Homo sapiens: one gene and its partner. The protein of the gene in region 1 interacts with the protein of each later gene in a pairwise test. Each region holds a gene or a part of one and is shown on either strand. Other genes may lie near its edges. The genes, in order: PHLDB3 and TPM3.

Region 1 (3,815 bases):
TTTTCTTTTCCTTTTTTTTTTTTTTTTCCAAGATGGAGTCTCACTTTGTTGCCCAAGCTGGAGTGCAGTATTACAATCTCGGCTCACTGCAATCTCCGCCTCCAGGGTTCAAGCGATTCTCCCGCCTCAGCCTCTGGAGTAGCTAGGATTACAGGCGCCCACCACCATGCCTGGCTAATTTTGTATTTATAGTAGAGACGGGGTTTCACCATGTTGGCCAGGCTGGTTTTGAACTCCTGACCTCAGGTGATCCACCCGCTTTGGCCTCCCAAAGTGCTGGCATTACAGGCATGAGCTACCGTGCCTGGCCTTGTTTTCCATTTTTAACAGTAGAGACACTATGTTGGCCAGGCTGGTATTGAATTCCTGGCCTCGAGCCTCCCTTCTGGCCAAAGTGCTGAGATTATAGGCCTGAACCATCATGCCTGACCTAAAATATCTTTTCACAGTTGATTTATTTGAATCTATATGCAAAGCACACGCTATGCATTTGGTTTAATGTCTCTTAAATCTTTTAATCTCTAACAGTTCTGCCTCCCCATTAAAGAAAATGCTATTTATTTGTGGAAATAATCAAATAATTTATCCTGTTGACTTTTTCACATTCTTGATTTAGCTGACAACTCCCTTACATAAATTACATTTTTGCCTATACTAATAACATTCATAGAATCAATGCGTTTTGTTATAAAGAATGATAAAGCTAGGCACCATAGCTCACGCCTATAATCTCAGCACTTTGAGAGGCCGAGGTGGGAGGATCACTTGAGTCCCGGAGCTGGAGAACAGCCTGGGCAACATAGTCAGACCCTCATCTCTACAGAAATTTAAAAAATTAGCAGGTGTGGTGGTGCATGCCTTTGGTCCCAGCTACTCGGGAAAAGGCTAAGGTGGGAGGATTGCTTGAGCCCAGTGGGTGGAGGCTGCAGTGAGCTATAATCGCCCCACTGCACTCCAGCTTCAGTGACAGAGTGAGACCCTGCCTCAAAAAAAAAAAAGAATGATAGATAAAGTATTAAGAAAGTGGTCACTTTCTTCCTGATCTCACTTCTACTGCTGAGAAGCCTTCAAATCTGTGTTTATACTTTTCCACATGCACCAGTCAAGCCATATTTTGTGAATTTGTCTCATAAATAAGCACATCCTTCCCAACCTTTTTGTTTTTACCACCATTTGTCCTTCCCTTATTCATTTCAGCCCATATTTATTGAGTGCCTACTGTGTGCTAGACCCTGGGTCATAGCAGTGACCAAGATAACAATCCCCACCTTTGGGGGAAGCTGATGTTTTAAGGGGGAAGATGGACACAAAGCAACATCAATATGTAAAATAAATAGCATGTCAGAGGCTGATAAGAGCCAGGGAGCAAAATAAGGCAGGAACGGCAGTGGGGTCTTCTGCATTGTTAGGCATAAGCTTGTGCTCATTAAAAACGAAGCACAGGCCAGGCGTGGTGGCTCACGCCTGTAATCCCAGCATTTTGGGAGGCTGAGGTGGGCAGATCACCTGAGGTCAGGAGTTCGAGACCAGCCTGACCAACATGGAGAAACCCCGTCTCTACTGAAAATACAAAAATCATCTGGGCGTGGTGGCATGTGCCTATAGTCACAGCTACCCGAGAGGCTGAGGCAGGAGAATCGCTTGAACTGGGAAGCAGAGGTTGCAATGAGCCAAGATCACACCACTGCTCTCCAGCCTGGGTGACAGAGCGAGACTCTGTCTCAAAACAAACAAACAAACAAACAAACAGAATTGCTCCTGCTCTGGTGTTCTGCCTGGCTTCTAGCATCATCATTTATTAAACAGTCCCCTGCTGTGTGCTTTGTCCCCTGCCGTACACCCCTGCTATCTTTTGTGCACGTGAGCAAGTGTGTCCCTGGGCTTCACACCTAGAAGAGGAACCTCTAGGTGAGAGACCCTGAGGGCAGCCAGCTCATCCTTGAAACAGCCCCAGAGGAGAGTGCTGTGATAACCCTGGTGTTTTAGCATAGGGAACTGAGGCTCCCAGAGGGGCAGGAGTTCTGTGGAGGTGACACAGCCGGGCAGTGGTGGAGTCCCAAGCCCATCCCTGGTCTCCTCCTAGATTGGGGCCCAGCTCCCCTACATCCTAGTTTGGTGACCTTGGAGAGTCACCTCTTCTTAAAGCCTCAGTTTCTTGATCTGTCTAGCAGGAACATTAATGGGTTCTTTTGGAGAAGAAACGAGGTAATCACAGTGACCACTTGGCATAGTGCCTGACACAGAGCGGGAGCTTCCACACACAGTGGTGATCCTTGGTCTTTCTGTGTGGATTTGGGGAGATTGCAGGCCCAGCGGGTACTCTTTAAACCTGGCCTTTCCCTCCCTTCCTTTCCCTCCTCCCTAATCCTTCTCATTTCCCCACCTCACTCTCCTGTCTCCAACCAGCAGATCTCATCTCTGTTTCTCATCCCTTCTTGCTCTGGCCTTGCTTCAGTTTTCTTTCTTTTCTTTCTTTTTTTTTTTTTGAGACATGGTCTCCCTTTGTCACCCAGCCTGGAGTGCCGTGGTGTGATCTCGGCTCACTGCAACCCCCACCTCCTGGGCTCAAGCGATCCTCCCACCTCAGCCTCCTAATTAGCCGGGATCCTAGGCACACACCACCATGCCTGGCTAATGTTTGTATTTTTGTATTTTTTTTTTGAGATGGAGTTTCGCTCTTGTTGCCAAGGCTGGAGTGCAATGGTGCCATCTTGATTCACCGCAACCTCCACCTCCCGAGTTCAAGCGATTCTCCTGCCTCAGCCTCCTGAGTAGCTGGGATTACAGGCATGCGCCACCACGCCTGGCTAATTTTGTATTTTCAGCAGAGACAGGGTTTCTCCATGTTGGTCAGGCTGGTCTCAAACTCCCAACCTCAGGTGATCCCCCCACCTTGGCTTCCCAAAGTGCTGGGATTGTAGGCGTGAGCCACCACGCCCAGCCTAATTTTTGTATTTTTTGTAGAGACGGGGTTTCGCCATGTTGCCCCAGGCTGGTCTCAAACTCCTGGGTTTAAGTGATCCTCCCCTCTTGGCCTCCCAAAGTGCTGGGATTACACGTGTGAGCCACCGCACCCATCCTGCTTCAGTTTTCTAACTCCTTGACACTCAAAGTGTGGCTGGTGGAACAGCAGCATCAGGGCCCACCTGGGAGCTTGTCAGACATGCAGAACCTCTCCCCCTACTCCAGACTCCACCCTGAAATGACTGAATCAGAGTCTGCATTTTAACATTTTAACAAAATCCCCAGCGGATCTGCTTGCATGAAGAAATCTGAGATGTACTACCCTGAACCTCAGTTTGACCTCCGGAATCATACCACTGTTTGCAGGGATTATTTGGGAAGAATAGGTTGGATCAGACCAGCTCATGGTCAGGCTCTCATAAATAGTGGACACTTGTATTGCCTTAAATCCTCCTCCCCAACCTGTATGACCATCTGAGGTGACCACTCTACCTGGTGAGTCCTGGCTCTGTCAGCTCTGGCTGTGTGACTTGTGCCGAGTGACTTAACCTCTCTGAGTCTTGGTTTCCACATCTGTGAAACGGAGATAAATGTACTTACCCCTTCAGGAGAGTTTGAGGGGGCAGAGATTATACCTAGAAAGTACTTAGCAGAGGATTATATTCATTAATTTCATCACAACAATAATAATGTAAACAAGCTCTCTCTTTCTTTTTTATTTTTGAGACAGGGTCTCACTCAATCACCCAGGCTGGAGTGCAGTGGTGCAATCATAGCTCAATGCAATTTCGATCTCCTGGGCTCAAGTGATCCTCCTGGGCTCAGCCTCCTTAGTAGCTGGAACTACAGGT
Region 2 (4,257 bases), on another chromosome or scaffold:
TATTTTTCTCCCCCTTATTCACTTGCCCACCCCCCCCCCATTTTCCACTCCTTCCTCTCCCTGTTCCCTAACCCCTTTCCCTGGCTAATCTCCAGAGAAAGGAGACTTGGTTTCTCCTCTCTCTGTCGAGAGTCAGCTGATGGTCTATCTGCCTATCTACCTCTAGTGACTGGAAGCTCTCAATAGTGGACTCCAGCTCTGCTCTACCCACTGGCCTGGTGGGTGTCTCCGTTCCCCCATTGCTGGGGCTTAGCATTAACTCTCAGTATCCTGACATAAATGACTAACTAGAGCCATTTATATTTGTCCAATATATCTGGTCACCTTGAACAGTGCCCACCTCTCCCTTGGCATATTTTCAGGTGTATGGTGCCAGTGGACTGGTATCCTTGCCACCTGTTAGTAACAAGGCTCCCAATGGAAGAATAAACATGGTCTGGAACTAAACTGGAAAGAATAGAGCTGATAATGATGATTACGATGATGTGGTGAGTGGCAGCGTTGGGGAGAATTAAGAAGGGAGAAGATAAAGGGAAGAAGAGGAGAGAGCCACACAGACCAAAGTCTGTGTGGGTACAACAGTTCTATTTTAAGATTACTGTGGGAAAACAAAGGGTATGATCCTGTCTGGATTGTTCTGACCCTCCCCTGTTTCTCTCCCCACCCCACTTGAAGCTCTGGGATAGCCTTCAAGGATAGGGTTGGAGATTCCAACCCTACCTCTTACTCTACTCTTGTGGCTCTTGGTGGGGAGGAAAAACGTCTCCCTGCCAATCGGAGACTCCCAGAATAGCACAGCAATTTGATCTGGGGATCTGGGAGAATTGTTAAGGATCATGAGTGACCTCCCCTCTTCCCTGTGCCCAAGCTCCTTGAATACCAGGAATCAAAAGCTAAAACTCAACTAACGGAGTTTGACCAGCATTCAACACAGTCTGGGGGAGAGTGAAACGGGAAGCTGAAAGGCAACCAGGACCCCCTGGATGCAAACTGCCAACCTAGAATTGCCAAAGTACACTTCTCTATTTCAATGTTCTTCCCTCCCCTCTTCCTCTTCTTTTAAAACATCCATAGAGCTGCCCAGAATGAGTGGAAAGTTTCAGGGTCAGGGAGAACCTCTTCCCTCCCCCACTTTCCATTGTCTAAAATCAGCCTCAGCTGTTGCTAGATATTTTTTTTGCTGGTGATGTCAGTTCATCAAAGCGTCTCACCCTGTGTTCCCCCAGGAGAACAATGATGGGGTGGAGGGAGCTGGAAAGACCATATTAGGAACAAAAGGTGGAGCTATGAGCACAGATAAAGACTCAAGTCTGGGGACCTCCTGGTCACTCAGGCAGCAGCCCCTTCTTTCTTGCCCCAGTCTCCAGTTCTCCAGTGTTCACAGGTGAGCCTACCAACAGCCACTGCTCATGATGGAGGCCATCAAGAAAAAGATGCAGATGCTGAAGTTAGACAAGGAGAATGCTCTGGATCGGGCAGAGCAAGCTGAAGCTGAGCAGAAGCAGGCAGAAGAAAGAAGTAAACAGGTAGGCACTGGCATTGATCTCTCTCATCTGCTAGTGAACAAGACTGTGAAATGGAAGGGAGTTTTCATGGGAAAGACAGTGACTACTGGTGTCACCTCCTTTTTGGGGGTGGGATGGACTCCCCAGCCTCACTGGAGGAGCAGAGGATATCTAACATATCTGTCTCAGACTGCCTTTGTGACCTTGGGAAAGTCAGTGAGCCACAGTATGTCTGCTGAATTTAAGTAGAAATGGACCATGTTTTGGAAGAACCCTTGACTTCTAGAGGAAAAGGTAAGAGTTCTAGAGGGAAAGAGCATCTCTTTTCACTCAAATAGCATCACGGGCATCTACACTTTAGATATTTATCATCCAGGGGTCTTGGATGAAAACCCAGGATGGCTTGGTCATCTTAGGATCAGAGATTACAGGGTCACAGGCCAAGCTACGGCATAACTCCTGAGGCAGTGGGCTGGAAGTGGCTGGGGAGAAAGTGTGTCTCACTAGGGATGGTAACATGGAGGTTACACTCAGGGCTCCAAGAGCCCAGGGTCCAACCCTGCATTGTTGTGTTTGTGTGTTTTTGTGTGTGACTCTCTGGGCTCCTATAGCTGGAGGATGAGCTGGCAGCCATGCAGAAGAAGCTGAAAGGGACAGAGGATGAGCTGGACAAGTATTCTGAAGCTTTGAAGGATGCCCAGGAGAAGCTGGAACTGGCAGAGAAGAAGGCTGCTGATGTGAGTATTAGAGAGATGGAGGATGGGTTTAATCTACACATATAGATCTTTATGTTAATGTATGACGAAATTCCAAACACACTTGTGGGTTCATGGAACACAGACATATATACTCACATACATTTTTGCATATAACCACATGCTGGTATATTCTCATAATGGCATGTATTTTCTTTCTTAAAGACATCTCCAACATGTTAAAAGTTTTTTTTTAATACATGTAAAGGTCTCATTTATCTCCTATCACCAACCCAGGAATTTAATTATCTTTCCCAGGACCTGGACAAAGAGAGGGGACTCTAAGTTCAGAATGCTGTCACTTATCCTACCTCCTCCCCCATGCCACATTCTTAGCTTTTATGTCCAAGTCTTGGCATGTGGATATGTGTATTAATAGGGAACCTCTCATCTCTCAACTGTCCAACAAAACCAGCTCGGATTTCACAATGGGAAATGGAGGTCACACTGACCCTGGCCATATATGGGTTTATTTATCTTGGCCAATGCAGGCATTTGCCTTTATGCCATGGAGATGCCATATGAAGCATTGCTCCTAGGGCAGCAGAGAGATCCCTACAGTGACAGAGTATAATAGAAACTAAGAAAGAATCTTAGGGGGTAAAGGTATCACCACCAGACTTCACTCTATGACCGTGAGTAATTACTCAGCTTGTCTAGGGCTGAATTTTCCCATTCTCAAATAAAATAAATTCTCTTTTCCATCTCATATTATCCCATCATCATCACCTACTTTCCTTCATCTTTAACCTTGAAGTTTGCTGCAAAGATAAATGAGAGAGTAGATTGAAAAGTTTTTTAGAAGAAAAGTACCATAGGAATCTTACCAACAACAACAGAAATGTCCCAGTATTGGTGGAAACAAGTTTCTCAGTGAACTGAGTTAATAGGAAAAAAGGAGCATGTAATATTTAAAATCATATTTGGGCTGGGTGCGGTGGCTCACGCCTGTAATCCCAGCACTTTGGAAGGCCGAGGCGGGTGGATCACCTGAGGTCAAGAGTTTGAGACCAGCCTGGCCAACATGGTGAAACCCTGTCTCTAGTAAAAATACAAAAATTAGCCAGGTGTGGTGGCGGGTGCCTGTAATCCCAGCTACTCAGGAGGCTGAGGCAGGAGAATCGCTTGAACCCAGGAGGCGGAGGCTGCATGGAGCCGAGATCGTACCACTGCACTCTAGCCTGGGCAACAGAGAGAGACTCTGTCTCAAAAAATAAGTCAATAAAATAAAATCACATTTGGTTTTGGAAAATAGCTAGAAGGACAGACAGAGTGAACCATTCATAAATGCTTTCGGATCCTCATATTTGGTCTCTCTGCCATCCGGTTTCTTTCCTTTTCTTTTCCTTTTTTTTTTTTTTTTTTTTTTGAGACAGGGTTTCACTCTTGTTGCCCAGGCTGTAATAAAATGGTACTATCTCGGCTCACTGCCATCTCCACCTCCCAGGTTGAAGCGATTCTCCTATCTCAGCCTCCTGAGTAACTGGGATTACAGGCACGTGCCACCATGCCTGGCTGGCTAATTTTCATATTTTTACTAGAGACGGGGTTTCATCATATTGGTCAGGCTTGTCTTGAACTCCTGACCTCAGGTGATCCGCCTGCCTCGGCCTCCCAAAGTGCTGGGATTACAGGCGTGAGCCACCCCGCCCAGCCAGGTTTCTTTTTATTGTTGTTGTTGAGATGGAGTCTCGCTCTGTTGCCCAGGCTGGAGTGCAGTGGCACAATCTAGGCTCACTGCAAGCTGTGCCTCCTGGATTCAAGCCATTCTCCTGCCTCAGCCTTCCGAGTAGCTGGGATTGCAGGTGTGTGCCACCATACCCAACTAATTTTTGTATTTTTTTTTTAGTAAAGATGGGGTTTCGCCATGTTGGCCATGCTGGTCTCGAACTCCTAACCTCAAGTGATCCGCCTGCCTCAGTGTCCCAAAGTACTGGGATTACAGGCGTGAGCCACTGCGCCCAGCCTAAGCCACTGCGCCTGGGCTTTTTTTTTTT

What was found.
Region 2: the proteins of PHLDB3 (region 1) and TPM3 interact in binary tests that used the Homo sapiens proteins (3 or more experiments, as listed by UniProt).

Annotation. Positions count from the first base shown.
Region 1 is NC_000019.10:43,480,465-43,484,279, reverse strand, and holds part of PHLDB3 (pleckstrin homology-like domain family B member 3), read left to right. Parts: intron 1-3,815.
Region 2 is NC_000001.11:154,189,171-154,193,427, reverse strand, and holds the start of TPM3 (tropomyosin alpha-3 chain), read left to right. Parts: upstream 1-1,327; 5' UTR 1,328-1,409; coding exon 1,410-1,526; intron 1,527-1,694; exon of another isoform or gene 1,695-1,799; intron 1,800-2,116; coding exon 2,117-2,242; intron 2,243-4,257. UniProt on the Homo sapiens protein: Binds to actin filaments in muscle and non-muscle cells. Plays a central role, in association with the troponin complex, in the calcium dependent regulation of vertebrate striated muscle contraction.